Linked DNA regions of Homo sapiens. The protein of the gene in region 2 purifies or fractionates together with the protein of the main gene of each other region. This does not show direct contact. Each region holds a gene or a part of one and is shown on either strand. Other genes may lie near its edges. The genes, in order: VRK2, SLC9A4, FAF2, EMC1, ADCY3, DNAJC18 and PON2.

Evidence for each region.
Region 1: the proteins of SLC9A4 (region 2) and VRK2 purify together in Homo sapiens (affinity purification with mass spectrometry; one large-scale study listed by BioGRID and IntAct). This does not show direct contact.
Region 3: the proteins of SLC9A4 (region 2) and FAF2 purify together in Homo sapiens (affinity purification with mass spectrometry; one large-scale study listed by BioGRID and IntAct). This does not show direct contact.
Region 4: the proteins of SLC9A4 (region 2) and EMC1 purify together in Homo sapiens (affinity purification with mass spectrometry; one large-scale study listed by BioGRID and IntAct). This does not show direct contact.
Region 5: the proteins of SLC9A4 (region 2) and ADCY3 purify together in Homo sapiens (affinity purification with mass spectrometry; one large-scale study listed by BioGRID and IntAct). This does not show direct contact.
Region 6: the proteins of SLC9A4 (region 2) and DNAJC18 purify together in Homo sapiens (affinity purification with mass spectrometry; one large-scale study listed by BioGRID and IntAct). This does not show direct contact.
Region 7: the proteins of SLC9A4 (region 2) and PON2 purify together in Homo sapiens (affinity purification with mass spectrometry; one large-scale study listed by BioGRID and IntAct). This does not show direct contact.

What each region holds. Positions count from the first base shown.
Region 1 is NC_000002.12:58,083,953-58,088,598, reverse strand, and holds part of VRK2 (serine/threonine-protein kinase VRK2), read right to left. Parts: intron 4,511-4,646; coding exon 4,461-4,510; intron 3,719-4,460; coding exon 3,649-3,718; exon of another isoform or gene 3,600-3,648; intron 2,261-3,599; coding exon 2,173-2,260; intron 259-2,172; coding exon 153-258; intron 1-152. UniProt on the Homo sapiens protein: Serine/threonine kinase that regulates several signal transduction pathways.
Region 2 is NC_000002.12:102,525,226-102,529,871, reverse strand, and holds part of SLC9A4 (sodium/hydrogen exchanger 4 precursor), read right to left. Parts: intron 3,614-4,646; coding exon 3,526-3,613; intron 1-3,525. UniProt on the Homo sapiens protein: Electroneutral antiporter that exchanges sodium for protons or ammonium ions at the basolateral membrane of epithelia to regulate cell volume and intracellular pH upon hypertonic conditions.
Region 3 is NC_000005.10:176,492,239-176,496,884, reverse strand, and holds part of FAF2 (FAS-associated factor 2), read right to left. Parts: coding exon 4,553-4,646; intron 2,887-4,552; coding exon 2,801-2,886; intron 2,702-2,800; coding exon 2,610-2,701; intron 400-2,609; coding exon 222-399; intron 1-221. UniProt on the Homo sapiens protein: Plays an important role in endoplasmic reticulum-associated degradation (ERAD) that mediates ubiquitin-dependent degradation of misfolded endoplasmic reticulum proteins.
Region 4 is NC_000001.11:19,214,014-19,217,842, forward strand, and holds the end of EMC1 (ER membrane protein complex subunit 1 isoform 1 precursor), read right to left. Parts: 3' UTR 1,647-3,829; downstream 1-1,646. UniProt on the Homo sapiens protein: Part of the endoplasmic reticulum membrane protein complex (EMC) that enables the energy-independent insertion into endoplasmic reticulum membranes of newly synthesized membrane proteins.
Region 5 is NC_000002.12:24,909,408-24,914,053, forward strand, and holds part of ADCY3 (adenylate cyclase type 3), read right to left. Parts: intron 1-4,646.
Region 6 is NC_000005.10:139,432,306-139,436,951, forward strand, and holds part of DNAJC18 (dnaJ homolog subfamily C member 18), read right to left. Parts: intron 1-4,646.
Region 7 is NC_000007.14:95,424,377-95,429,022, forward strand, and holds part of PON2 (serum paraoxonase/arylesterase 2), read right to left. Parts: intron 210-4,646; coding exon 139-209; intron 1-138. UniProt on the Homo sapiens protein: Capable of hydrolyzing lactones and a number of aromatic carboxylic acid esters. Has antioxidant activity. Is not associated with high density lipoprotein.

The DNA.
Region 1 (4,646 bases), about 44 Mb from region 2:
TCAATTTCACCAAAATAGCCTCTACTCCTAATAACTGATGTCTCTAGGGCAATAATCCTTCATTCTCTAATAATTCCACAAAGGGAAAAGATTTCTATATTGCAAGAAGTAAACAATTTGGAAATGGAGCATGCGAAATAAGTAATTCTTACCATTCGGATACCTAATTGCAGGACAGTTGACTTTTTAAAGGTACCATTCTGGCCTGAGATCTTCTGTAAATCTATTCCTAGTCTTTCCATTACCATAAATCTGTAACTGTAAGAAAAAAGCATCAAAAAGAGATCATCCTGAGAAAGTAATGCTTGAAACTGTCTATTTAATTTGAAACAAGAAAAATTACGCTCAACCTAACAACTAAGTATAATGCAATCTAAACCATTAGAGAATGAATGCACGTTCATAATTCTGCTATTCTTTTGCAGAAACTGCTCAATATTTACTTTGCAGCTGATTTTCTATAAGAGAATGCTGTACTGAACCATTCACACTGTTTTACATAATGAAAAAATCTTTCTAAATTAGATAGTACTGAATGCAATTCATTTTGACTCCATGACTTTCTTGCCATATGGCCTTGAACAAATTATTGTACACACTTGATTTTTTTTTTGAGACAGAGTCCCGCTCTGTCACCAGGCTGGAGTGCAGTGGTGCAATCTCAGCTCACTGCAACCTCCACCTCCCAGGTTCAAGCGATTCTCCTGCCTCAGCCTCCCAAGTAGCTGGGACTGCAGGCATGCACCACCACACCCAGCTAATTTTTGTATTTTTAGTAGAGACGGGGTTTCACCATGTTGGCCAGGATGGTCTCGACCTCTTGACCTCATGATCCGCCTGCCTTAGCCTCTCAAAGTGCTGGGATTACAGGCATGAGCCACCGTGCCCAGCCACATGAATTTTATATTTGTTTGTTTCTTGATAAGATCATATATACCGTCTCTATACATTTATAAACATGTCTTTAAGTGCACTTCTTCCTTTTCTGTTCTGTTTGGCACCTTCCATACCTTCTTTCCTTCCCTTCATTTATATATCCACATCAGCCCCTATTCTATATCTATGCATGCATACACAAACACACACACTTAGGAATTTGTTTTACAAAAATGTGATCATATTATAAGTATTTTCTCCATCTTACTTTTTTCAATAGTATCTCATCAAAATCCTTCTAAGGCAACTAGTATAGCTCTAATGGACTTCTTTAATGGGCTACATATGACATGATATGGATGTATCATGATTCAATCAGCCATTCAGTCCCCCAGTGGCAGTCCTTTACTTCAAGATTACTGTTTGCTCATTTTTTTAAATTTAAAGCATTTAGAGACCATTTCAACAAAGTACTGACATCTGAGCTTATTCTCTCATCTATGGAATAAAAATAATATCACCTATTTTAACAGGCTATTCAAAGGACAAAATAAGATAAAGTATATAAAAGTCTCTGGCACAAAAGGGTAAATATAAAATGACACACTTTTTTTCTTTTTTCAAACACTATTAATAAATTATATATAGGACTAGCCATATTTGGTGGTTTTAAAGATATTTCTATAACTTATTTGTTGTGCTTCTCCTCAAGAGATAGAACTGAATTCTCCTCTCTCAGGACCAATGGATCTATCTAGTGACTAGCTTCTAGCAAAGAGAATAAAGCAGAAGCGATAATATCCCTTTTAAGATTAGATTACAAAAAACGATGACTTCCTTCTTGAATGCACTTGTGTGCATGCTCTCCCCGTCCCCCAATTAATTGCTCTAGAGAAAGCCAGCTATTTTTCATAACACTCAGGTAGCTTATGCAAAGACCCACATGATCAGGAAGTAAGAAGGCCTGCCAACAATCACATAAGTAAATTAGAAGTAGATCTTCTTAGGCCTACCAGTAGCCACATGAGGAACCCTGAAAACAAATACTTCCCCAGATGAGCCTTGAAATGAATGTAACCCAGCAGACAGCTGACTACATATCCTTATTAGAGATCCTGATCTAGAATCATACAGATAAGCCACTTGCAGTCTCCTCACTCACAGAAACTAAGACAATACAAGTTTGTGGTTATATGCCAATATGTTTTGGTAATTTGTTACATGGCAATAGTTAACTCATAGACCACATAAGGAATAGTTATAAAGAAATATTTGATTATAATAATTCCATTTTACCTTCTTCCCTTGAATTCAGTCAGACCAGATCCATAAAACAGAGGAATTCCTAAATAATCAAGTTGTTTGCGTTCTATCCACTTTTTGACTACAAAGACAAATTTATTTTTAAAAAGATTCATGTTATTTGAAAAGATACTTGTCACCTTTCTACAGACAAATTTATTTAGCTAACCAAAAAAGTAATTAGATCTTCCTAGAAGATAATTTTTTTTCAATCAAACATCTCTATCTAATGGCCTCAAACTGTTACCACTATAATTAACAAAAAATTAGAAATTTTTAAATTAAATCAATAAAAACAAGTCATAGGCTTTGTATATTGATACCATATATATTAATGTTTCAATCTATAAAAAGAATTCATTATCTTATATACTAGCTAAATTTCTAAATATAACATATGTTAACCACCAAAAGATCAGTAGAGAGATGGCTTTTTCTTCCCTATTACTTCAAGATTTAAAACCATAATGGACCAAAAAAAAAAAAAAAAGAAAAAAAAAGCAGAAATTGGGCAGAAAAACCATCTTACTTTGAAATTACTTTATACAAAAACTGGTTTTGATTAGTTTACAAAAAATCAAATCCACTTAAATAAAGTTAACTTTCATCATTTTTTTCATGACTCTAGCCTATGTTTTTTATGTTTAAGACAGCTCTACTGATAAACAATCAAGTTTAATGGATTCTATTTGTCACTGTGACATAGTTTAAGCAATTAGTAAAGATTACAGTCTTAATGTTTAGAAGACTTTATTAAGAAAAACTAAGTTAAATATTGAGGTCAGACCCATCACTCTTATTCTTAAACATGATGTAAAGGACCTTGACTATACAGTCATTACTCCTGTCTACTTCTTTAATGTTTTTCTTAGCCCATCTATATCACATTTATAAAATGCTGTTATTTTTCCTCTCTGCTTATATTCATTTCCCATTCAAGTCTTCTAACTGGTCATTCTTACACTTGGTATCCAGCTCCAATTAATTTTCCAGCATTCAAGTTTCTAACATTTTCTTAAACATCTTAAAGTTTAATCATTTTCACATTTCCACACACCTTGCCCCAATCCATTCTACAATCGTTCTTTTTTTATACATATATCTACTTCCCATTTTAATGTTTTTTCCTTATAGCCGTCCTATCCAAATGGTTTACTGTAAAAGAAATAATTTCATTCTACTATCTTTTACACTTAGGGAACTCTTGGTAGCTTAGATTAACAACCTAACATTTTATGTAAAGTAGTAGAAACAACTTTGACTTAAAATATATAACCCATTATGTATGTCATGTCAAGATTTGTATACCATCTGTCTTGCTTTTATATGTTGTAACAGTTAACTGTATCACTTTACAATAAAATTTCTATTGAAAAGAATTTTCCAGAAGGCCAGAAAAAGACCAAAATATCAACACTCACTTTAGCAAGCACATATATGGAAGTAGCTTGCTTTGCTAATTTTACTTACTACAGTCTTTTTTTGCAACTCTCTGATAAAATTTAAGTTCTGAAAATAACGGGCCATTTTCTTGATATTCCTATAAAAAAAAGAATAATTAATTTTACTAGAAAAAAATAATCCCAAAGATGGAATTGTTATTTCAACTGTGAAAATATGAACATATATATGTAGTATATAATAGTACTTGAATCACTTTTTATAAAACATAGGCACCAGATTTCCACTAAAAATCTCAGAAAACACTAAATAAACTTGAAGAATCTAATTTTTAAACGACATATTGTACCACTATCCCTATACAGTCTTACACATAAAAGTAGTTTTCTTACAGAGAACACTTACTAGAAGCACTGAGAACTGTATACATAAACATATACAACACTCACTGTATACCAACATATACATCCAGGTGATACACAGCAAACTCTCCTTGTGGTCCACTCACACATGATACCTTTACTGAATGGTCTACTATATTTCATTCATTATACTAGGTACAGGGGACACCAAAAAGAAATAAAACCCTATGCTTGCCTTTAAGGACCTTACCATCTTGATTAGAGAGGTGGAGAGGGTGGGAGGGCATTTGGGAGGGAAAGAGAAAGAATAGCTAGATAGATAACACACCAGGGTAATAGCTGGCAATACAGAAAAACAAAGGTTCTCCAGTTTTAATGTTTTAACAACGTCAAAACAGATGATAACATTAGGTTTACTGATAAGGCAATAGTTACAAAAATTAACGTGAAAAACATTCTTAAAGCAGAAAAGGAAAAAGTCAAATATATGTGAAATACAAATCTATGAGCAACACTTACCACTTTTACTACATGTCTTGCATCTTTCTCTGGTTTATTTGTGGGGAAAGCTGCAGACAAAAAAAACACACAATGGAGAAAAATAGTTATTCCCAATTACTGAATACCTACCATATCCCAAACACTATGCTAAGCATTTTACATATGTAAGTTTATTATGTCATCCCAACAACCTTTTATGGTAGT
Region 2 (4,646 bases):
CCTGGAAAAGCATGTGAAGTCCCCCAAACCAGCATGGAGCTCCAAGACATCCAGAACAAGAAAAGTCCTGACCCTGGAGGGCAAGGGGAGAGCTAGGAAGGGAAGCATTCTCCAAGTTTCAGGTGGGTTAGCCAGGGACTGCTTGCCTGCAGAACATGACTCTCCACTGTCTCCCCTAGATCCCCTCCAGCCATTCTCCTGGTGCAGAAAGACTTTGGGTTTGGAGAGAAGGATTCCAATGATCAATTGTGCTTGATTACACATTGAGGACTATCTCAGCCTTATCCTGATCACTATTATAATCCTTTTTAAATGTATCATGGTTTATTATTTTTCATAAATCGTAACCACAGAAATGACAAATTATTCACAGTAGAGTTAATTCCAAGCAAGCCAGAAATGAGTCTGCATAAATAGGCATAAGTTTCCATGACAAATAAGAACAAGTATTTAAAATCCTGCAGACATATGACCCATAACATATTGCAGAGCACTGATTTCCCATCTTTAAAACTTATTAAAGAAAACTGCTAACATAAGTGCTATTTCATTACTTTTCCCTCAGATTTCTAGTTTAACCACTGTCTTTGTTCACCTGGATGAAACTTAGAACCAGTCGAGTATATTTGAAAGAAAAGAAATCATTGGGACTAACAGTTCATTCCAAGTCTGAAGTAATTCATGTAGAACTGACATGGTGAAGTGTTGTCTTTCTTTCCAAGAACATCTGTATTTACCCATGTCAAGGCTTCTTTAAGTCCCTAAGTAGTAATAGTAATAATGACTAATATTTCTTGCACATCTACTTGGTTCCAGACTCTGCTCTAGCAGCTTTATGTACCTGTTCATATGCGTATCCTGCATGTATGAGACTGGCTTCACATCAGGACAATACAATTGCATATGGAGGGAACCAATATCATCCTCTTTATAGACCGGAAATGACAGTGTGGAGAAGTAGAATTTTATTTTTCCTTCATATATATCCTGTCTATTTCTTCCTGGCATTTTATGGCTTTGACTGAAAGTGTGACTGAGATATCCTTTAGTGAGGACATCCATTAAAAGGTTAGGATCCTGTGACCTATTTATCAGTCTAGTGAATAATATATGTATGTTTCCAAATGTTAAACAACTCTCAAATTCTGGAATAAACCCCACTTTGCAAGGTGTATTGTACTTTAGTGTTTTGCTGTATTTTGTTTATAATGCTTATTTAAGATTTGTTCAAATGAATCTGCTCCGTGGTCATCTCCTGCTACCATAGGCATGCAGTATTGATGCTCATCTCTTAAGAAATAACTGTCGTCCAGGCATGGTGGCTCACACCTATAATCCTAGCATGTTAGGAGGCGAGGCAGGAGGATCCCTTGTGCCCGGGAGTTAGAGATCAGCCTGGGCAACATAGGGAGACCCTGTCCCTTTTTAAGATTTTTTTCTAAAAAAATTTAAATTAAAAAAAAAAAAGAAAGAACTGTGACACTTTCTTGTTTTCTCACTCAAATAACAAAAATAGTGCCAGGTTATTTGTACCAGGAAGATGGTTTAAAAAAATTAAACTATCGACCAGACTCGGTGGCTCACGCCTGTAATCCCAGCACTTTGGGAGGCTGAGTCAGGGGGATCACCTGAGGTCAGGAGTTCAAGACTAGCCTGGCCAACATGGTGAAACCCCGTCTCCACTGAAAATACAAAAATTGGCCGGGTGTGGTGGCACATGCCTGTAATTCCAGCTACTCGGGAGGCTGAGCCAGGAGAATCGCTTGAACTCAAGAGGCAGAGGTTACAGTGAGCCAAGATCGCTCCACTGCATTCCAGCCGGGGTGACAGAGAGAGACTCATCTCAAAAAAATAAAAAAATCGTTGGCAACATATAGGAGATAAAATGGATGATATCCTTGTTATATAGGGTTCTTCAAATTCATCTCAAGAAAATCAACAACCAAATAGAAAAAAACAAAACAAAAAACGAGCAAAGGCAGGAACAGAAAACTTCACCCCAAGAAATATCATTGTTTCCAAAATGTGAAAGATGTTCAACTTCACTAAAAATCAAAGAGATTCATATGAAAATTAAATCTGACATATAAATTTTATGCTACGATATCACAGATTACTCAAAAGTTTGACAACATCCCAGTGGTATTAGGAAAAGATCATTCTTACAGACTGTTGTTGTGAGGGCAAATTAGTGATATAATCTTTTGTGATGGTGTTTTGACAATATATGTAAAAATTTAAATCTATATGAATTTGACCTCAAAATTTTACTTCTAGGAAAATATACTAAGGGAGTAATTGCTTATTTGTTAAAATACCAATCACAAGTGGTCCAGAGCCCTTAATATGTATCATTGTTTATATTTATTAAAAGTTGATAATACCTTAAGTATTTATTAATTAGGAATTAGCTTAATAAGCTTTGGTACATGCATATAATTATTATTAACTCATTAAAAATGAGTATTAGATCCACATCTATTGACATGGAAACCTAGGTACAACATTTGTTCAGTGAACTAGGCAATTTATAAAGATTGCAAAACAATGACTATACTTTGCTTTTATGTATCATATGATGCAATGTTTTTGTGATTTTTTTGTGGAGGGAGGTGTCAGTATGGGTAGTGTGGGATCAGGCAGGTATAGGAAGAATTCTAGAAGGGTGCTCACCAAAACATTCTATGGTGATCATACCTTGGCATTAGGGTTGCAAATGCTTTTAACTTTTTTTATGCTTTTCTCTACTGAATGATTTTGACTTTGTATCAAGTATGTTTTTAAATCAGAAAAAAAGTTTCATTTTGAGGTAATTACATATACTCCTTAAAGGTTAAATACTAAAATCCTTTATGTTTAGTTTACGTGAATTTCCAACATGATTTTAACACTTAAAAATTAGGAAAATAAAAATAGATAACACGGCATATTACATATATTATGTCACCTTTTGCTAATAGCAAATCATTTTATACACATATAAAAATAGTAACTGCTTTTATTAGAATAATAAAGTTTCAATAATTCTAAGAATTCCACTTAATAATTAAATATTAAATGGAAAACATTTAATCAGTAAATCTGGTGAAATCATTTTAGTGAAATTAAACCAGCTTTGGAGAACTCTGCTCATATTTAAATAGTGGGTGAATATTAGAACTTCAATGAAACACTCCTTTCACATTTCTTCAAGATGAGATCAAATTATGACCCTTGGTCTCTATCTGGCCTACTTCCTCTTTGTGTATGGCATGTCAACTACAAATGGTTAGTACATTTTTAAGGGGCTGAAAAAAATTAAAAGAAGATAATATTTCATGAAAAGTAAAAATTATACGAAATTCAAATTTCAGTGTTCATAAACAAAGTTCCGAGTTTCAACTATAAAAGAAGTTGTTTTCTTCTTTTTCTTATCATGTAAGTAACCTACATAATGTTCTTAATGTTGCCTCTTGGCCCACACCCCCAGATATTTACCACCTGACTCTACAGAAAAGCAGCAGAGCAGCCAGGTGGGCAGCTTACCTGAGAACCCAGCAGCCCTTGTGTCTCTTCCTGCAGACTGAGGATTCCCGTAGGGGTAGGAGAGGTAGCGGATATTCTTGGTGCCAGCCTGTGGGTAGCAAGTAGAAAGAAAAAGCAGAATAAGCTGTCTCAATTAAGAGCTTCACATGGCAAATAAAGGGCCAGACACTGTGGCTCACGCCTGTAATCCCAGCACTTTGGGAGGCAGAAGAGGGCGGATCACCTGAGGTCAGGGGTTCAAGACCAGCCTGGCCAACATGGTGAAACCCCGTCTCTACTAAAAATACAAAAATTAGCAGGGCGTGGAGACGGGCACCTGTAATCCCAGCTACTCAGGAGGCTGAGGCAGGAGAATCGCATGAACCCGGGAGACAGAGGTTTCAGTGAGCTGAGATCGCGCCACTCACTGCACTCCAGTCTGGGTGACAGAGCGAGACTCTGTCTCAAAACTAATATAATAAAATAAGGGGAAGAACACAGACCTGTTCTGTGGCATCTTGTTTGGATTACTGGCTTTTAGTTTTTTTGTTTTGAGAAAGCAGAACACGCCAGTCTCCAACATGTATTTCCTTCCCCTCTCATGATAAAATAGACCATTAGCAACCTTTCAAAGTTACTCTCGTATCCCCACTGAGGTTAGGCTTGAGATTAAGGTCTGCTTCTCACCCAGCCTCCATTCAAATTGCCAGTAAGACTGGTTTGTTATGGCCTCCAATGGGAAGAGTGCAGGAACACAGTGGCTGATGTGAAGGTGACCCAGGAGTCTTGGTAACAACCAATCCCTTCCTATACCTTCTTGGGAGAGAAGTAAGCATCCTGGGATCAGAGGGTCTGGTCCAGACCCAGACCCCATGGTGACCAGGTACTGACCATGAGGACTGAAGGGCATGGTCAGTACCTGGTCACCATAAGGTCTGTGTCTGGACTCATAGCACACCAAGTGTGTGGCAGTCCCTGACCCACTGTGGAGGGAAGCACCCTATGGGCAGATGCCTTGGGGCCCTGAACCCAGAGAAAAAGGTTGCTCTGGTGTCCTGCACTCTTGCTTTAGTATCTCTCAGGTAACAAGGTGGGGTTTTGTTTGTTTAAGCATCGATGGTCATGCATGTGAGATCCTGTAC
Region 3 (4,646 bases), on a different chromosome or scaffold from region 2:
CACCCAGCCCTTGTCTTTATTTTGAACATCTCTAAGAACAGATTACCTGATATAGAGTAATTTAGGTCAAAGTATGTAAATATTTTGACAATAAATGGGCAAAGCTAAAAGCTAATAGCGGCCTGATGCACAGAAGAAGTCAGGATTGGTAGAGCCCCAGAGGTCAGCCCTCCAAATTTACAACTGGTCTCTCTCTGTTCCAGAAGGGAACTCCCTTGTACCTTTCTAGGCGTTCTGACACCAGGTAAGTCTGGTTAGCATCCATGATAAATGTCAGTTGGTTAATGAGGTCATCAGGTTGAATGAGGCCTTCTAGCCGTCCCACCACAGTCATCCTTCGATCCTTCAGCATAATCATGGCCAGGAATGGATAGGTGTTCTCTCGTAAAGCCTGTGAGACTGATAAAAAGACCCAACAGATCAAGGGCAGGACTTGACGGTGAAAAAGATCAACCCTTAGACTTTCCACAATGAGTGAGAGAGAACTGTTTTAATCCTGGTTGGGGAAGACGAGAGGTATCATTTAGTCTCCGCTTTTTCCCCGCCTCCTAGTTTCTTTCTTTTCTTTTTTTGAGCCAGGGTCTCACTATGTTGCTCAGGCTGGTCTCCAGCTCCTGGGCTCAAGTGACCCTCCCACCTCAGCCTCCTGAGAAGCAGGGATTACAGGAGTGTGCCACCATGCCCAGTTCCTCCCAGTTTTGTAATCTTTTGTTTTTGTTATCAATTTGCATGCCTATCCCTAGGTGCTTGACTAGAATAGGACAGGCTTTCCTGGTGGCGGTGTGGTTGTTGTGATGATGCCAGGGAAGGCTGCAGAGTTTAAGGATAATGTCTACTTGATGGTACAAAAAGGATCTATAAAGAATCTGGCACAGTTTTTCCCTGTACAAGGGCTCAAACCTAAAAGGGCACAAGGCTGCAAGTCTCAGCCTGATGATACTGATAATAATCTCCATCATCATTTTTTTTTCTCTTGCCTAATCCTTTCCTTATCCTTTCTCCCCACGTAACTTTTCTCCACCCTTAAAAAGGTTAGTTTTTCTGTTCCAAAGAAGCTTATTAATAGAAAGTTGAGGCTGGGCTGGTAGCTCCACCTTTAATCCTAGCACTTTTGGGAGGCGGAGGTGGTTGGATCACTTGAGGTCAGGGGTTTGAGACCAGCCTGGCCAACATAATGAAACCCCATCTCTACAAAAAATACAAAAATTAGCAGGGTGTGGTGGTACGCGCCTGTAATTCCAGATAGGCGAGAGGCTGAGGCAGGAGAATCGCTTGAACCCGGGAGGTGGAGGCTGCAGTGAACTGAGATCGCACCACTGCACTCCAACCTGGGTGACAGAGTAAAACTTGGTCTCAAAAAAAAAAAAAAAAAAATTGGTGTCCAAATGACCAAGATTTTTACCATAACAGAGTTTTACCTATGTTTTCCTTATGGTGTGAAATAAGAGATTTTATAAACTTCTATTAAAAAAAAATCCTTACCTTCCTTCTATTCACAACCTCCCTTCTGCCCCCTGCAAAGCCATATTAGAATGGCAAAACGCATGCAGGAATTTGGATGTTTAAAAACAATTAGGCTTAAGATTCAGACTCTGGGATGCAGGGACAACATCTGCCACATCTTTGGTTCTCAAGACATGGCACAGTATGTGGCATGCTAATATAAACTCAAAAGTTGCTGGATAGAAGTAGCCACAAAAATGACTACATTTTTCCTCACTGGATGCCTTCGTATCTTTTACTAACCGTCTAAAAATACTTATCTCCAAAGAAGAGTTATTGTCAGCAAAGATCTGAACTTTCCAAATCCATATCAGCACTCAAGGTACTCAAACAACTGACTCACTATGCAAGGGCTCTGTTAAAATCGTTGATGAAAAGAATAAACTCTTCAGTAAAAAGCCCATTAAGATTAAAAGCAAGCTGCTAGCCAAGACTGGGTATTTCTATGAATGTGGCAGGCTTTGGCAATGCTGAATGTGAAGAACGGGCTTTAGAATCTGGCAGACCCGACTGTACGCTACAACTTGCTAATTATGGCGGGGCACAGTGGCTCACACCTGTAATCCCAGCACTTTGGGAGGCTGAGGTGGGCTGCTCACTTGAGTCCAGGAGTTTGAGGCTACATGGTGAAACCCCATCTCTACTAAAAATACAAAAAAATTAGCTGGGCGTGGTGGTGCATGCCTGTAGTTCCAGCTACTCAGGAGGCTGAGGCAGGACAATCGCTTGAACCCAGGAGGTGGAGGTTGCAGTGAGCCAAGATCGCACCACTGCACTCCAGCCTGGGCGACAGAGCAAGACTCCATCTCAAAAAAATTTTTTTAATTAATTAAATAAAAACAAAAAAAATAAAACTTGCTAATTGTGTGATCTTCAGCCAGTGGCTTGAACTCTCTGAGCCTATTTCCTAAACCATAAAGCAAAGGTAATATGACCCCCCATCTCTCAGGACTGCTGAGAGGATTAAATGAGACAATATAAAATAGCAACTAGCGTCGTATCTACCACAGAACAAACACACTTGTAATAAATGGCATGGCATGTCTTTCCAGACTATTCCAAAGATACTCCAACAATCTCAATGAGGCAGAAGAAACATAACTTACCCCTGTATCCCTCAGGTTTGTTTGTAGAGCATGCCCAGAAGAGCATCCTAGTGTTTATTAGTGAAATAACTTCAGGTGCACAGAGTGTGTTGCTGTGGAAAGGTATGAAAAGGATATGAGAACAACTTGCTGACTATAAACTGTCACCAGAAAGAGTCAGAAAAGAGAAGGAAAATAATCAATCCACTTACCGACAAAACTCATCAGAGTCCTGGTGATCATCTCCATGAAGATAAACCAAAAGAAAGCGAAGCTCCCTTTTGGCATCGTTAAGTGCCTGTGAGAAAGAGAAGGTCACTCACTATTAAGAAGACTGTGCCTTGAGCTTATATTTAAGCTAAGGGTCCTAATGGATACAGTTATGTATTTAGGAACAAAAGGAAAAATAAGGAAAAAAGGTGAGCAAGAAATCAGAAAATTCCTGAGCTCCTACCTTCACACCCCTGGCATTGTTCTCCCTATAGAAACTCCACGCTAACAAGCTTTAATGAAAAGGTTTTAGTGTTGTTAGGATTCAAACTTAACAGACACATGAGAGTAGACAGGCTTACAAACACAGGTTCCCAACAAACCACAGAAAAGTCAGCTGCACCCACAGTCTAAGGAAGATAAAAACAGGAGAATCTGACCATATGAAAGGGAGGTGAGAATTTTTCTACTTCACAGCTACAACATCCTTGTAAGTAAAAAATAACTGCGAAGACAACCCTGATCCCAGGCCACATATCGAGTAGGAATGATGGACTGTACGATCCAAAGGCATTCTAAAGAGCATAGGGTGTAAAAGACTTTCAAAGACAAGGCTAGCGCCGAAGACTCCTGTGCGTGCTCCTGCATGTGCGTGCTCCTGAGCACATTACACTGTACGACTGCTGACATGGTCAAGGGTGGTCTACCCTCAGGATCATAGCAGAGAGGGTACACAGGAGGTGCTCATCTCACTCATCTCTGTATCTCTAGCACTGAGGACATTGCCTGGCATACAGTAGGTGCTCAGTTTTTGTTGAGTGTGGTGGGAACAGCCAGCGAGGAGACTGACTATGATAAAAAGCAGATGTGGGAAAATGAAAGCAGGAAGCAAGGGTGAGCATTTTTCTTTCTCCAGATAGATTCAGGAATTCTGGAGGCTGCATAATAGAACCCCCTTTTGCCTATTGCCACAGCATTCCCATAGTTTTCCCTATTCCTGTAGTGTTAATTCTATGTATTTCTCTGGCAAACTAGAGATATACCAAACACCCACAGAACTCTAATTTTTCCTCCCCTGAATGGTGAGGTCTTGAGTCAAAGGTCTACATGGCTGAGGTTGAATGAGATGTGCTACCCTGAGTCTATGGTCTATGTCCTTATTCAATTCTGTGAGAGATCAAAGAAGATGTAGGCTTTGCCTTCAAGGGGCTTTCAGTCTGGTAGCAGAGATTAGACACGAACACAAATGATATAGGAAAGAATATAAAATTGCTATCAATTTTTAAAAGCTATGGAAGAACAAAGGGAAAGATTAGTATTCTAGATGATGAGATAGGGCAGGACAGGGCACAACAATCAGGGATAGCTGTAAGTGGGGCGTGACATAATCTAGTTGAAGGACTGGCAAGATTCCAATTAGCAAAAATGTGAGGAAGGCATTCCACGTGGATGGACCGGCAAAAGCAAAGGCACAGAGGTAGGCAAGTACAGACTATGTTCAGGGAATGAGTCAGCTGGAACTGAGGGTATGGTAAAATAAGTTATGCAGAAAAGACCTCAAAAGAAGGGCAGCATTAGATCAAAGAGGGGCCAGCTAAAAGGTTTGGTCTTTTTTATTACCCACCCCTATAAGCAGTGAAGAGCTAATTAAGGTTTTTGAGTACAAGAAGGACATGATCAGTGCTGGGCTGTGCTCTCCTTTGAGGATAGAATCATTTCGGTAAGTTGGCATCTATATGGTTTATGGCACTGACCTGGCTGTACGTTCCCTGGTAGAAGACAGGGTGTGCCCTCCCATATTTCTCTTCAAAAGAGTGCATAAATGAAACAATGTCCCCAACGGGGTCA
Region 4 (3,829 bases), on a different chromosome or scaffold from region 2:
GGTGGAAAACAGGCTTCTTCGTTGGAGGTCAGTCTCAACTAACTTCACACTCTGATTCCTAAAAAAAAATGGGAAGGTGGGTGTGTACACATCCTTTATGTTACAAATTTCTTACTGGAAAGGTGACCTAAATATTAGACTTTCCCGAAAGAGTATTGAGTCTCATAAAAATCTCTAATGGAACAGCACTTAAGAATTTCAACCGTGTGACCACTAAGAATGGTGTAGATCCATTACCTCTCACATAGGCACTCTCCACGATAGACTAAGTGATAAAACCAAGCTGCAGAAGATTGTATTACCTGGAGAGATACCAAATTGTTCAGTGGTGACCTCTGGGAAACATGGTGGGGGAGGTTTTGAAGGCAACACTCACCTTAATTTGGGGATATTGTTAAAAAATTTTTTTTACTTACATAGTCTTTTTAAAATAAAGAACTTAGCCACAAAATCAAAACAGCTGATTGATATGAAGCACCAGTATCTCCATTATTGAAAGGTTGCTTCAAGAATGCTGAATAGTTTGTTACATTTTACAAAAAAATGAAAGAGCACAGGATGTTGTCTACCTGTTTTAATTATGGAAGGATAATTGTCAATTTTTAAATAGCAAGATAGTTATAAAGAATGTTTTCCAAAGCAATACCAAAGAGATACTTTTCCCTTTTAGAATAGAAATTATGGTACCATGCAGCTTATTTCCCCATATTGATCAGGTGAGCATTTGTCTTAAGGAGTAAGAGAGTTTGTCAGACCTGGTGTCCATGGCTTGCCAGAGAGGCAGATTGAACTATCTCTTGGCATTTCCATAAATATACAAAAATTAGCCGGGCATGGTGGCGCACGCCTGAGCCCCAGCTACTCGGGAGGCTGAGGCAGGAGAATCGCTTGAACCAGGGAGGCAGAGGTTGTGGTGAGCCGAGATTGCGCCACTGCACTCCAGCCTGGGCAACAGAGTGAGACTCTGTCTCAAAAAAAAAAAAAAAAAAAAAAAAGAATTATTGGGGCCAGGCACGGTGGCTCACGCCTATAATCTCAGCACTCTGGGAGGCCACACAGGCAGACCACCTGAAGTCAGGAGTTCGAGACCAGCCTGGCCAACATGGTGAAACCCTGTCTTTACTAAAAATACAAAAATTAGTTGGGTGTGGTAGCACACTCCTGGAGTCCCAGCTACTCGGAAGGCTGAGGCAGGAGGATTTCTTGAACCCGGGAGGTGGAAACTGCAGTGAGTCGAGATCAAGGCACTGCACTCCAGCCTGGGAGACAGAATGAGACTCTGTCTCAAAAAAAGGAAAAAAATCCTTTACTAAGTCACCGAAGTCTTAGAAATTTGGGAAACTGAGGACAAAGTTCCTAAGGGTTCTGGAGAAGAAGGTACAGCCATTTGGGGAACTATTTGTCAAGGAGCAACTTCATGTCTGGGACAATAGGTAATTCAGAAAACAGTCCCTAAGAGACACAATATCTGAAATAATAAAGGGGTGTGGTATATCACTCAGGAAGTTACGTGGTAAGCAGCCAGGATGGTTGAAGGTCCTGAGTAGCTGAAACCAATAGGGAAGACTTTATGGAGGAGTTCAGATTTGAGACAAGCCAGATTTTAAGCAGGGAAGAAAACATTCCAAGTAAAGAAAACAGAATGGTTTCATGATTTAAAAGCAATTTTTTCATTTTATTTATTTTTGAGACAGGGTCTCACTGTGTTGCCCAGACTGGAGTGCAGAGGCATGATCTCGGCTTACTGCAGCCTTTGCCTCCTGGGTTCGATTCTCCTGCCTCAGCCTCCCAAGTAGCTGGGATTACAGGCATGCACCACCACACCTGGCTAAATTTTTTTATTTTTTTGGTAGAGATGGGGTTTCAGGTTTCACCATGTTGGCCAGGCTGGTCTTAAACTCCTGACCTCAAATGATCTGCCTGCCTTGGCCTCCCAAAGTGCTGGGATTATAGGCTTGAGCCACCATGCCTCGCCTAAAAGCAAAATTTTAAATAATTAGGAATCAGGAAATGAGTCTTGGGATGATTCTGATGATACTTTGTGTAATAGGCTCTTTAAAAGTATGACAATTTATGGGCCAGGTGCAGTAGCTCATGCCTGTAATCCCGGCACTTTGGGAGGCTAAGGAGGGAGGATCACTTCAGCCCAGGTGTTCGAGGCTGCAGTGAGCTATGACTGTGCCACTGCTCTCCAGCCTGGGTGACAGAGACCCTGCCTCCAAAAAAAAAGCAATTTATAAAGGCAGTGAAATTACAATTATGAAATTTTCAAATTGAAAGATGCCTTACGGAGCACATAACATGTACCCACACACAAATAATGAAACTAGTTCAGATTAGATAGCTTACATTAAAGTCTCTAACACTTAAATTAGGAATTGAGTATTTTTTCTATCAGACTTTGTTCCAGAAACTATTTCAGTCATCTTTATGAATACATGATATTCAAGATACATTAGCTGAGCCTTTATAAAAACATCTCATGTACCCCATAAGTATATGTACCTAATATGTACCCACAAAAAATTTAAATAAAAAACTTTAAAAGATCCATTAGTTGAAAAAACAAGTAACAGAATTAAATAGCATCATCTCATTTAAGAAAACACTGTATACAAGAACAAACACTAGACTACCAGTGCTCATATACGTAATTAATGAATACTAAAACAAACTAGTTTTTGTTTTTGTTTTTGAGCCAGGGTCTCACTCTGTTGCCCAGGCTGGAATGCAGTAGCATGTTCATGGCTCACTGCAGCCTCGACCTCCCAGGCTCAAGTGATCCTCCTACCTCAGCCTCCTGAGTAGCTAGGACCACAGGCACATGCCACCAGGCCCGGCTAATTTTTTTTTATTTTTTGTAGATAGAGTCTTGCTATGTTGCCCAGGCTGGTCTGGAACTCCTGGGCTCAAGAGATCCTCCACTATGGCCTCCCAAAGTGCTGGGATTATAGGCATGAGCCATCACGCCCAGCCAAATCTTTTTACGTGAAACACCATGGGGCCCCAAAATTAACCTAATTAATGAAGACAGGAGAAGAGGTAAGTCAAGGAATACACACAAAAAACAAGGAATGACAAGAAAGCAAATAGATCAGAGAATTGAGAGAGGAAACATAGTCTCAGCAGCCATTAGTGGAGACTGAGTGTAGCTGCTCAGAACCGAATGCTGCTTTAAGATTAAGGAAAGTTGAGAACTAAGAAAAGATTTAAATTGGACTGTGGCATTAGCATTAACTATTTTAAGCACTTGGCCAAGCTCGGTGGCTCACACCTGTAATCCCAGCACTTTGGGAGGCCAAGGCCAGCAGATCACTTGAGGCCAGGAGTTCGAGACCAGCCTGGCCAACACAATGAAACCCCGTCTCTACTAAAAATACAAAAAATTAGCTGAGCGTGGTGGCACATGCCTATAGTCCCAGCTGCTTGTGAGGTGGAGGTTGCCGTGAGCCAAGATCGTGCCACTGCACTCCAGCCTGGGCAACAGAGTGAGATTCTGTCTCAAAAAAAAAAAAAGCACCTGCTTTGAGGTAACTTTGATTACAGCTGAAATACAGGGAATTTTACTAAAGGACAAATACCTTCCCTCCCAGTAGCTTGTTTCAGATTCTGGCACACTGGTAAATAAAAACTAGAATCTTGCAGGCTAACCTTGCACATATGTATGTAAGACAGTCAGAATTCCAGCCAGGCTTTCTCAAAACTAGGGCAGAATTTTTTTTAACTTGTACTTAACTCTCTTCTCCCAGGTTATGTTAAAATATGCCTTGGGTCAGGATGATAGATGCCTGTTTTTTTCTGGAGATTCTTAGACATTCAGTCACTCAAT
Region 5 (4,646 bases), about 78 Mb from region 2:
GGTGCTGGGGTCCATGATTAAGCCACACATCCTGTCACCTAGGGCAGTGTCCTGGACACAGGGGCCGTTGCATGCTTGAGAAGGTAAGAGAATGACTTCTCACCCAAATAAGGCAAGGCAAAGTCTATACAGATGAATTCTGAGCCACCATTTCTCTCTGTACAATGCAGTTTCTGAAACTTTCTAAAAATCTTAGAAATGATGTATTGGATCCTACAGAGAATCAATACCTTAATGGAGTTAAAAACACTGGGCTCTGGGCCACATTTCTAACTTTTGAAGCATTCTGTGGTCACAGAGTATTTTGGACCCTACCCAATCTCATGGCTTTAATTAGTTCCGTCTCCCCAGCATCCCCCATGTGCCTCCTGGTTTCTCAGACAGCCTCAGAAGACAGCTGCTATCAATTCATTCCCTCCCTTACACACGCTACTCAAACATCAAAAGATAGAATCAATTTCCTCTTGCATCTGAGTTAGCCTGGACTTCTTGTAGCCGATAGTGATGAGCCTAACCTTTAAAAACTGTGATAGCTTCCACCTTCTCTCTGAGACCACCATGCTGTGAGGAAGCCCAAGTTAGCCACATGGAGAGGTCAGGAGGAGGAGCTCTGAGGCTCCAGACATGAGTAAAGGCTTCTTAGAACTTGCCAGCATAGCTGGCAACTGAATGCTGCAGGTGAATGAAACAGCGCAGGTGGACAAATGAGTGACCCCAGCCCATGCCACGTGAAGCACAAAAACCACCCAGCTGAACAGTCAACCCACAGGATCATGAGAAACAATAAACTGTCATTCTTTTTTTATTCTTTTTTGAGACCGGTCTTGCTCTGTCACCCAGGCTGGAGTGCAGTGTCACGATCATGGCTCATTGCAGCATCCGGGGCTCATAATCCTCCCACCTCAGCCTTCTGAGTAGCTGGGACTACTGGCACATGCTACCATGCCTGGCTGATTTTTGTACCATTTGTAGAGACAAGAGTTTTGCCATGTTGCCCAGGTTTAAACTGTTACTCTTTTAAGCCTCCAAATTTTGGGGCTGTTTGTTACACAGCAGTGGATAACTAAAACACATGGTGAATAAATGGACATATACTCAGTAACACTGAGTAATGAGCCATCCCACATTACTGAATTTCCAAATATAATCCTTATTTGTTCAAACTTGTGTTATCCATTCCCGAGGAAAATGTTTTTAGATACTACACTACACTTTATGCTAAATGCAATTTAATATTTCCTTTCTTTTCTTTTCTTTTTTTTTTTTTTTTGTGAGACAGAGTCTCCCTCTGTCACCAGGCACAATCTCAGCTCACTGCACTCTCTGCCTCCCAAGTTCAAGCAATTCTCCTGCCTCAGCCTCCCCAGTAGCTGGGACTACAGGCGTGCATCACCACGCCCGGCTGATTTTTTGTATTTTAATAGAGATAGGGTTTCACCATGTTGGCCAGGATGGTCTCGATCTCCTGACCTCGTGATCCACCCACCTCGGCCTTCCAAAGTGCCGGGATTACAGGTGTGAGCCACCGCGCCTGGCCTTAATATTTTCTTGATGAGTTGGTCACCATTATGCACATCAGTTACTATGCTGTCCTATAATGTAACAACGCCTCCTACAGCCAGAGAAGGTGCATATGAGGGCTGTTGGTTGCAACACTCAACACCCCAGACATCTCTGTTCCTTGAAGATGCCCCCAAAAACACCTCCTCATCCCCCAAATTGCTCCTTCTAATGCTTGTGGGTTGAGAAACCAAAACCCTAACCCCGTTGGAACTATCTCAACAGGCTCCGAGGGAAGATATAAGGGTTCTTTTTTTTTTTTTTTTTTTTTTTGAGATGGGGTCTCACTGTTCCCCAGGCTGCAGTGGGGTGGTATGATCAGAGCTCACTGTAACTTCAAACTCCTGGGCTCAAGCCATCCCCCTCCCCAGCCTCCTGTACAAGACACACACCATCAGCCTGGGCGCTGTGGTTCATGCCTGTAATCCCAGCACTTTGGTAGGCCGAGGCAGGTGGATCACCTGAGGTCAGGAGTTCGAGACCAGCCTGGTTACTGTGGTGAAAACCTGTCTCTACTAAAAATACAAAAAAAATTAGCCAGGCATGGTGGTGGGTGCCTGAAATCCCAGCTACTTGGGAGGCTGAGGCAGGAGAATTGCTTGAACCTGGGAAGCGGAGGCTGCAGTGAGCCAAGATAGCATCATTGCACTCCAGCCTGGGAGACAGACTCAAAAAAAAAAAAAAAAAAAAACACACACACACACACCACCAAGCCCAGCTGAATTTTTTTTGGTGGTTGTGTACGTGTGTGTGTGTGTGTGTATGAAGATGGGGTCTCATTATGTTGCCCAGGCTGGTCTTGAACTCCTGGCCTCAAGTGATATTCCTGCCTCAGCCTCCCAAAGTGCTGGGATTCCAGGCATGAGCTACTGGTCACCGCCTAATGGGTTCTTTTATGACTCCAGTGAGAAGGAACTCCAAAATCCTACTGACCTGGGCTCCAATCCTGCTCTGCCTCTTACTAGGCATGTGGCCCTGGACAAGTCATTTCAGTTGTCACCCATTTCAGTTTCCTGATCTGTAAAATGGAAATAATATTTGCCTCTTGCCAGAAGGCACTAAACTGTAACAGAGCAAGAGCTCAGTAAACACAGCCACCTCCTCACTGTCCCTGCTCATGGGCCTCGACCTACGCACAATGTGTCTCTGAGTCTCCGTGTTGGTGATAGCACATACCCGTGGAATCTATTATCAAGAACGTGTAATTTGGTGATGGCTGGGCATGGTGGCTCACACCTGTAATCCAGCACTTTAGGAGGCCGAGGTGGGTGAACCGCCTGAGCTCAGGAGTTCAGGCCCAGCCTGGGCAACATGGTGAAACTCTGTCTCTATTTGAAAAAAAAAAAAAGGAAGAAGAAAAAGAAAAAAAGAAAAAACAAAAAGAATGTGTAATTTGGTGGGGGGGCAGCCAGGGGCAGAGGGTGGTGTTGGAATATTTACCCAGCATTAGACCACCCTCGTGGGATTTGCTGTTTGTTTATGAAGAAACTGCAGAATGCCAATAACCCTGGCATCCCAGCCATTCCATCTGACGGAGGGTTTACCCAGAAGGCTGGGCAGACCAAGCCCAGGAGTGAGCACGCATGTGTGTGTGTGTGTGCATGTGTGTGTGTGTGTGCATGTGTGTGTGTGTGTGCATGTGTGTGTGTGTGTGTGTGCCTGCATGTGCATATAAAACTACCCAGTTACCCACCCCTGGCCCAGCCCTGGGCTTCCGTTTCCTCTCTAGAAAAACTCGCTGACTATAAAGCGCTGATTTAAAATAATAAACACGAGGAGTCCAGTGTTCACAGCAAAATGTCAGGGAAATAATGTGGATGAAAGGTGGGGCCTAAATTGCATATGCATGATGATGACAAACTGGGAAAGCTCTGTTTATACACAGATCGGGGTCAGAAAAGGCCACAGAAAGCTGCGACAGGGAAAGGATGGAGGGGTTGATTTTCTGCAAAGTTGTTTACATGTTCAATGACTGATTATTCCTCCTCACATGCAGCTGAATCTGATGGCCCTGCAGTCCCCTTCTACGCACGTCATCATTGTTCTGGTCCCTGGACCCTCCACTGATGCCCATCTGCATACTCTCCACGGAGGGATGACGGCTTCTTTCCCGTCCCGGGTCAGTGGAGGAGCCCAGGGCCAAAGAGCCAGGACTGGCTTGAGTTTGCCTCCTCTTGCTCTGTGTCCTGCACACCTCTCCCTGCAGCCTGCTTCCTGAAGGCTGAAAGCCCCCAGGCCTGCTGCTTCCTGCCCACCGCACCTCACACCAGCTCCTGTCCCGATTCAGCCCCCTGCCTTTCTCAAGTACTCCTGGCCACGTGCCCACAGGGAACATCGTCATGGGCTTCTCCCTTCTTTGCATCCAATTCCCATGGGGAGAAGGGGGTGCCTCCTGTTATACCTTAGGGACTGCCATCTCTTGGCACTGTTCAGCTACGTTGCTTAGCAAAGACATTTGGGGGCAGCCAGAAAAGTAGGAGGCCCAGATGCCTGGGTTCCAGAGAAAGAGAGGCTTTCAGGGAAGTCCCCCAACCCACCTTTCTCACTCATCAGTGACCCCTCCCCTGTAATCCAGCCCCACTACCTCCTCTCAACCTCACTGAGCCTCAGTCCCCTTATCTGTGAAATGGAGCCAGTAACATCCAGGATTAAATGGGATGAGGTGCATGCAACAGCTACCTGCCGTCTGCAGACAGGGTGTCTCTGGAAGCCTCAGTTTCCTCTCACCCTCCCTACGGCAGCTCCCTCCAGCCCCTAGGAGCAAATGTTCCTTTGCTGGGTGAATGATTGCTGTGTAATTTGCAGGTGTGAAAGAAACTGCACATCCACAGCTTCCTCATGTTTTACTTGGTGAAAAAAGGTCTTAACAGGCTCTTCATTCCATGAGAGAATTTTGCTCCCAAATAGCCTTTCTGCTCTGAAGTAAGGGTACAAAATATTTGTCAGCAGTTCCTAGTCCCTACTTTGCCAAATGCTAAAGGCACGCCCCGCCCACCACCACCCCCAACCATCCTGGCTGCCTTCCCCATTGTCCGCACTCATTGGCCGCTGGTCCTGCAGGTCCTGGTCCTGAGCCCAGTCCCCTC
Region 6 (4,646 bases), on a different chromosome or scaffold from region 2:
AGGCACCTGCCACCACACCCAGCTAATTTTTGTATTTTTAGTAGAGACGGGGTTTCACCATGTTGGCCAGGATGGTCTTGAACTCCTGACCTTGTGATCCACCTGCCTTGGCCTCCCAAAGTGCTGGGATTACAGGCGTGAGCCACCGCGCCTGGCCACAGAACTTTATTTTTTTTTAGAGACAGGGTAGGGTCCCTGTCACCCAGGCTGGAGTGCAGTGGCACGATCATAGCTCACTGCAGCCTCCAACTCCTGGGCTCAAGTAATTCTCCTGCCTCAGCCTCCCAAGTAGCTGAGACTACAGGCATGCACCATAACCCTGAGTTAATCCAAAAGAACTTTTTAAAGGCAGTCCCTTAATGGCAAAGTACTTCCTGACTTCACGAAGAAAATATCAATGGAGCCAGTCCAGAAAAAGGGCTCTCAGTGCCCAGGCCTTCTTGCTGTACAACCAAAAGGCTGGCAGCTGGTGTTCATCTTTTCCATTCAAGGCTCAGGGGTTAGCAACTTTATATATAATGGCAGCCCCCATCATAAACTGAACTGCATTTGCACAAAATAGCAGAGTTAGCCTATCCCTTCCTGCCTTATATCCTGATGCTCACTTCTCATCCTTACTAGTACAATGTCCTTTGTGACATTTCTTTTCCAGAATAGGGCACTTTTGTCTGCACTAAAAAGTTGATGAGGTAGGGCTGGCCGCAGGGTTCACACCTGTAATCCCAGCACTTTGAGAGACTGAGGTGAGTGGAAGCCTTGAGCTCAGGCATGCGATAAGTAATAATCACATCATGGACTGTATGCCTTTCTTATAGCAGTCCTGCACCCATATAAAAGCTTCATTTTCAATATGAGATGAAAAGGTATTTTGCAAAAAGTGCAATGTTTTCTTACCTGCTGGCATTAAGTGCAGGTGGATCACAAGGCCAGGAGTTTAAGACCAGCCTGGCTAACATGGTGAAACCCCATCTCTACTAAAAATACAAAAATTAGCTGGGCATGATGGTGGGCGCCTGTAATCCCAGCTACTTGGGAGGCTGAGGCAGGACAATCGCTTGAACCTGGGAGGTGGAGGTTGCAGTGAGCCAAGATCGTGCCACTGCACTCCGGCTTGGGCGACAAGAGCAAAACTCCATCTCAAAAAAAAAAAAAAACAAAACTGGAGAACTGCAAGAGATCACTTTTTACTGCTATACATAATTTACTCAAGAGACAAACTGCTCACAAAGAGATGATTAGCATCATGTGGCATTTTAAGCAGATACTCCCAATACTTGAGGCTCAGCAAAATAACAGGAGCTAACTACAAAATTATTACAGTAGTACAGTACTACTGTTAATTTTATGCAGGTGTGATTAATACTGCACCTGTATGTTTACATTTTTCTCAAATGCAAATGGTACCATGTAGTCTCAAGTGTTTGTGAGCATATGTTTTGATAGATTTTCACTTTTTATAATAGATTTGTGTATATTTTATGATAGTAAATGATAAAATAGACTAGAATCTAGATATATTTTATGCATTCATATAATTTTCTTAATTTTTTGGTATGTCCATGCTCCATGGTTTGTGAGATGGTGATGATGATGATTATTATTTGAGACAGAGTTTCGCTCTTGTTGCCCAGGCTGGAGTGCAATGGCACAATCACAGCTCACTGCAACCTCTGCCTTCTGGGTTCAAACAATTCTCCCGCCTCAGCCTCCCAAGTAGCTGGGATTACAGGTGTGCGCCACCACGCCTGACTAGTTTTGTATTTTTAGTAGAGACGGAGTTTTGCCGTGTTGCCCAGGCTGGTCTCAAACTTCTGAGCCCAAGTATTCTTCCTGCCTTGGCCTCCTAAAGTGCTGAGATTACAGATGTGAGCCACTTTTTCAAATTGTTGCAAATCTAAAAAATTTTTCCAATGTATTTATCTTTTAAAATTGACATATAAAAATCCATGGTTCAAACTGATGCCACTCAAACCTGTGTTGTTCAAAGGCCAACTGTATCTCTTTTTTAAAACTATTTATTTATTTATTTGTATATAGAGACAGGGTCTTGCTTTGTCACCCAGGCTGGATTGCAGTAGGGTGATCATAGCTCACCTCAGCCTCGAACTCCTGGGCTCAAGGGATCCACCTACCTCAGCCTTCTGAGTAGCTGGGATTTTGGGTGCATGCCACCACACCTGGCTAAATTTTTATTTTTAGTAGAGACAGGGCCTCGCTATGTCGCTCAGGCTCGTCTTGAACTCCTAGCTTCAAGAGATCCTCCTATCTCAGCCTCCCAAAGTTTTGAATTACAGGCATGAGCCACCACACCCAGCCTCAACTATATTTTCTTAATTTCATTTTTTTATTGTTCATTGCTAGTATATAGAAAAATGATAATTTTTGTATATTGATCTTATATCCTGTAACTTTGTCCAACTTGTTTATTAGTTCTAACAGTATTTGTGTGTGTGTGTGTGTGTGTATTCATTAGGATTTTCCATTTACAAGATCATGTCATCTGTGGATGTAGTTTTACTCTTCTTTCCAATTTGGATGGCTTTTATTTCTTTTTCTTGCTTAAATGCCCTGGCTTGACCCTCTAGTACAATGTTGAACAGAGTGGCAAGAGTGAACAGACATACTTGTCTTGTTCCTGATCTTGGTGGGAAAACACCTAGTTGTTCACCTTTAAGTATGATGTTAACTGTGGATTTCTGTAGATGGACTTTATCAGGTCGAGGAAGTTCCCTTCTATTCCTAGTTAAGTGTTTTTATTATGAAAGAGTGTTGGGGCTGGGCGCAGTGGCTCACACCTGTAATCCCAGCACTTTGGGAGGCCGAGGCGGGCAGATCACAAGGTCACGAGACCATCCTGGCCAACATGGTGAAACCCCGTCTCTACTAAAAATACAAAAATTAGCTAGGCATGGTGGTGCGCGTCTGTAGTCACAGCTACTCAGGAAGCTGAGGCCAGAGAATCGCTTGAACCTGGGAGGCAGGGGTTGCAGTGAGCCGAGATCGTGGCATTGCACTCCAGCCTGGGTGACAGAGCAAGAATCCGTCTCAAAAAAAAAAGAGTGTTGGATTTTGTTAAATGCTTTTTCTGTACCTATTGAAATGATCGTGTGATTTTTGTCCTTTATTCTATTAACATGGTATGTTACATTGATTGACTTGTGTGTGTTAAACAATCCTGCAATACTGGGATAAATCCCACTTGGTGAAAATATATAATACTTTTTACATTGCTGTATTTGTTTTACTAGTATTTTATTGAATATTTTAAAATCTATATCCATAAGGGATATTGGTTGATAATTTAGACTTCTTATGATATTTTTGTCTGGTTTTGGTTACAGAGTTAATACTGGTCTCAAAGAATGAAGCCAGCTGGGCCTGGACTTTTCTTCATTGGAAGTTTTTTTTTTTTTTTTTTTTTTTTTTTCAGACAAGGTCTCCCTCTGTCACCCAGACTAGAGTGCAGTGGTGCTCACTGTAGCCTCGCCCTTCCTGGCTCCATCAATCCTCCTACCTCAGCCTCCTGAGCAGCTGGAACTGCAGGTGTGCACCACCATGCTCGGCTAATTTTTGTGGGGTCTTTTTGTTTGTTTTTTATTGTACTAATGAAGTTTCGCCATGTTGGCCAGGCTGGTCTTGAACTCCTGGGCTCAAGTGATCCTCCCACCTCAGCCTCCCAAAGTAATGGGATTACAGGCATGAGTCACCATGTCCAGCTAGAATTTTTTTGATTGTTAATTAAATCACCTTATTTGTTGTAGGTCTACTTGGGTTTTCCTTTTTTTTTTCTTTTTCTTTTTTGGAAATAAGGTCTCTGTCACCGAAGCTGCAATGCAGTGGCACTACCATAGCTTACTGTAACCTCAGATTCCTAGGCTCAAGTGATTCTCCTGCTTCAGTCTCCAAAGTAGCTGGGACCACAGGCATGTGCCACCATGCCCAAGTATTTTTTTTTTCTTTTTTTAGAGATAATGTATTGCTGTGTTGCCCAGGCTGGTCTCAAACTCCTGGTCTCAAGCAATCCTCCTGCCTCAGCACCCCCAAAGCTCTGGGATTACAGGTGTGACCCACCATGCCTGGCCTCCATTTTTCTTGGGTCAGTTTCAGTAATTTGTGTCTTTCTAGGCATTTGCTGATTTTATCTAGGTTATCTAATTTGTTGGCACACAATTGTTCATAGTATTTGGATTGGTAGGGATATCCCTCTTTCTTTTTTTTTTTTTTTTTTTTTTTTGAGAGACAGGGTCTTGCTCTGCTGTGCGATTATGACTCACTGTAGCTTCAACCTACTGGGTTCAAGCAATCCTCCTGCCTCAGCCTCTCAAGTAGCTGGGACTACAGGTTGGTGCCATCATACCAAGCTAATTTTTGTATATATATATTTTTTGGAAGAGAGGGGGTTTCACTGTATTGTCCAGGCTGTCTAGTTCCTTAAGGTAGATTAGGTTACTGATTTGGAGTCTTTTTTAAAAAAATAAGCATTTAGAGCTATAAATTTCCTTCTAAGCACTGTTTTAGCTGCATCCTATACATTTTAGTACGTCGTGTTTTCATTTTCACTCATCTCAAAGCATTTTCTAGCTTTCCTAGTGATTTATTCTGTGACTTGCTTGCTTATTAGGAGCTTGTAGTTTAATTTCCACATA
Region 7 (4,646 bases), on a different chromosome or scaffold from region 2:
ACCAAAGAGGTTTTTGTTGATCTAATGTGATTTATCCACTGAAAAGCAGTAATTTCATGCTAAAATGCCATTAATGAGTGTTTTAATGTTAATGGCCAAAAAATGCAATGTGCCCAACAAGCATTTTCATATACATACCAATTCCTTTAATCAGGTGGCAGTGTGGAAGGTCTACAGATTCTACTTCTCTGGAGGCTTTAAGTCGATTTCTGTTACAAAGAAAAAAAAACAAAAAACAAAAAACTATTTGTTTATGTATTCCCTGCTTTGTTTTAGAAAGGGTTTAAAGAGGCTTACAGCAATACATAAAACACAGTTTAAGTCTAAAGCAGATGAAAGAGAAAATAGAAAGACAAGGGTAGGAAAATAAAACTGCACCAGAAATGAAGTTAAAACAAAAATGCCTATTGCAAAGTTCTATATACTGATGTGGGTTATTAAAAAAAAAAAGCCAATAACTCAACAAATAAAACTTATAATGCAAGTTCCTATGCAAATGTAAACACAGCACCATGTCACATTTCTCAGTGTTGGTGTTGTGGGAAAAGAGTTCCAGATGTAGAACCAGTAGCCCTGTCTTCCTTCTGAAGAGTCAAACGTGAAAAATGACTGTAAGCCTCACACAGAGACTGCAAAGAAGCCAAGAGAAAATGGCATTGCTCAGAGCCTGACACACCAAAGACATCCCACAAATAGTTACTAACAAAAAAGAAAAGAAGGTAGCATCCCTATGACAGTATTTTTTTAAATAAGAATGTATTTATCTTATTTCAATAGCTTTTGGGGGTACATGTGGTTTTTGGTTACATGGATGAGTGATATAGCAGTGAATTCTGAGATTTTAGTGTACCCATCCATGACAGTATGTATTGGAATAGGAAGGTTGGAGAACACCAACTAGTTCTGTAACTACTTCAGCAAAACTATTTGCTGTTGTATACCCAGAAAATTAAAAGAAGGAAATAATAAGAGAATGTTGAACTCTAATAGGATGTCTTCCCCCTCCCTCTCCACTCTAGAGGGCCAGGAAGCAGTTTGGGACAATATCTGTGGGATCTTTTGTTTTGAAGGCCACATACTATTGGCTTTCCCTTCTCTCTCACATTTTTCACCTTCTCTGTTCTCTAGAGCCATAAATAATAAAAATAGCACCTTGTAGAAACTTTACATTTTTCAGTGGTTCCCACATACCATACATTTAAGAGACGAAATAGCTATTTGCCATGTGTCCTTCTCCTGTGCATATTCCTGACAGCTTCTGAGGTCTAGACACTGGGGAAGGCTTCTGGAGTATGGGGCAGGCTACCAGTTTCTTCTAGATAACCCAGAATGACTCATAGGTTGTACCAACTACACATTTTGGCAATTCATATCAGACATAAAGTTTCTAATTAAAATGTTAATCAGTATGTATTTGAAATCATGTAACTCAAATAATGTTAAATTTTTTGAAACAATATAGCAATAAGGCAAAAAGTACAAATAAATCAATATTTAAATATAATAAAAAATAATGCATTAAATGTATTAAATAATACAAATTTTTAAATAAGGCATTAAAAAATACAATAAATCTCATGGCCTACGTGTCACAGAAGTGATTTAAGAGAGGAAAAATAAGCTAGAAAACCAAATACTGCATGTTCTCACTTTAACTGGGAGCTAAACAATGGTGCACATGGACATAAAGATGACGATGGTAGACACTGGGGACTACTAGAAGGGGAAGGGAAGGGAGTAGACAAGGGCTGAAAAACTATAGGGTACTATACTCACTACCTGGGTGATGGCATCAGTTGTTCCCCAAACCTCAGCATCAGACAATATACCCATGTAAAACCTGCACATGTACCCCTTGAATCTAAAATAAAATTGAAATTATAAAACAGAGAGAGAAAAAAAAAGTTTATGTAGCCTAATGTGGTAGTAATCTTAATTGTGATGATGAGGATGACACTGATGATAATTGTGGGTGGTCAAAGGAAATAAATAATAAAAAAGTATAATTTACCGCTGTTCTAAGTGATTTACCTCCATGCATTCATTTAATTCTTCAAACAACCCTGTAAATTAGGTAGCATTATTCCAGTTTAAAAGATGAGAAAACTGAATCAGACAAAACAATTTTCCCACGGCGCAACTTAGCCAGAAGTGCTGGAAGCAGGGAAGCTTTTGCTTTAAACTACTTTGTACTTTTCTCAGAAAGAAGTAAAGGGATCTGTGTTCTTGTCTCAGCAGTGAAACTGCCATGACCCTTGGCAGGTCAGTTAATCTCTATAGGTGTCAGTCTTCTTTATGGATAAAATAAGGATGAGCCTAAAACACCTCCAAGATTCTACAAATGTTATATGACTCCAGAAACAGATGTAGATACAAAGCAATAGGATGTAACTGCTGTTTGTACACCAAGTTTTAGTATCATGCATTGGTTTGGATGTCAATTTTACACAACTTACTACTATGCCTATTTGACTATACAAAAATAGGGATAACGATGTTTACCATCTACCTTTTTCAAAGATAATCTCTTTGGATTAAATAAAATCTGTTCAAAGTAACATATTCTGATGTGTTTGAAAAGTTTAATATGGGGTTCCTGTTTCAGAGTCAACTTAGGTTTGCGTAAGTAATTGGTGCTAAATAGGGCAATCTTCATCAACTAGTTTTCTTGTATAATATCATGTTTTCATATGCAGCCTACCTGCTATTAACATGGAAGAGTTACATGAGGGTTGTGCATAACTTCTACTTAACTAATTTTTTTCTTGGCTTTCCTTTTTGATAAAAGAAAATGAAGGTTTTGCCTTTATCCTTCCTGGACCATCAAGACTTCCAAATTTCTTCAGTAGGAAACTGCCAGACTTTTTCCCTGGCAGAACAATCAGTTCCCTGCTTGTTAGTGGACTTCTGTTTTCTGGGTGGCAGACCCTAGCGGCTGACAAAATTAACGCCATGCCCAACCCCCTTTCTTTCTCCCTTGTCGTTTCTATTGTAGTGGTGGGCAAAGCAAATATTTGCTTTCCCAGACTCCGCTGTATTGAGGTGTAGTCATATGACCCAGGTTTTGGGGAAAGACACTGTGTTCTAGATACAAAGGAGAGTCACGAGAAGAGAGCTAGCTGGCATCACTCAATCTCCTTTCTTCATGATTTGAACACACACGCAGTGTTTGAGACTGCGGCAGCCATTCTGCATCCTTGAGAAAGATACAGCTATAAAGTCAATAGGGGGAGATCAAAGAATGAAAATATATGAAGAACCCAGTTCCTTGATATAATCACTGGCTCAATGAACAAGCTCTATATTGGGTCACCCACAGAGCTGTTTTTCATGTGAGGAAAATAAATCCCTCTTTGAATGAACTACTATTAATCTGATATATGTTACTTGTGGCTGGAAGCAATCCTCGCTGGCATCAGATTTAAGAACTTTGTGTATTTAAGAAATACATATATTTCTCTTAATATAGAGAAAGCTATACAAACCTTTTTGGATTAGATTAATAAATCTAAAAGTATTCATGTAAAAAATACAACATAAATGGTATAAACACATATAAGTGATGATATGAGAGGAGGAACACTCTTTACTTTTGCTAGAGCCTATTTGTTCCCTAACACTTTATGTCTATAACATGCTTATGACTGTGCCAGGTCAGAGATGCATGGCTGTTGCCACTCTGCTGTCATGCAGGAATTGCTAATCAATAACAGCACTCTCCCTCTAACCCAGAGCCAGCCTCAGACACATTGTTTCGCAACCACAGGGAGTCTGTTAAAATTGACACTCAAAAGGAAAGCTATTTGCCTTCTCTGTTTTAGGTTCCTTTTGTTTTCCTTTCTTTTCTTTTTCATTACAGTTATTTATTTTATTATTTCCTCATCACGAGCCTATGGTAGGTATAATACAGCAAACAGTATCCGCTGGCTTCCTTCATTGGTGTCACAATCATTCCCCAAGTGACCCCTATGGAGTCCAGTGACCAAGGAATCCATGGGTAGAATTCAGGGATCCATGAACTTGGATGGGGGAAAAATACATCTTTATTTAAACCTTTAACTCAAATTGAGTATTTCCTTTGATGATGAGTATAAGCAACAAACCACAATACTATTAGTAGTATTTGTGACTGTCACTAATAGAAATTATAGATACTTTTCTATCGCATTTCAGTTGTAGATAGCTCAAAGTGCCATTTACATTCATTGCAACTTCAAAATATCTGCTGTTAGACATTTACCTACCTCTAGATCCATTTAAGGGTTTAATTTAAAAAGCATATTATATCATAGATTTTTAAATAGCTTGGTAGCAGTATTTAATTGGTTTCCTGTGTAATCCTATATATTTTATTTTACTCATTTAAAAACATGATGCTGAGAAGGAATGAAGGCTTTACCAGACTGCCAAAGGGATGTATGGCACAAAGGTTTAAGGAATTATGCTTGAATTTCATTGTCTACATAGATGACATTTATTGAGCTGACTGTGCGCTTGGCATTATTTTAAGCATTCTCATAGTCCCACTGTGGAGCAGGCAGTACCCCATCCTACAGATTACAACACTGGGGCACAGAAAAGTGAAATAATTAGTCCAAGGTTTCAGGTAAATAGTAGAGCTATGAATGAACTCAGGCTACCTGTCC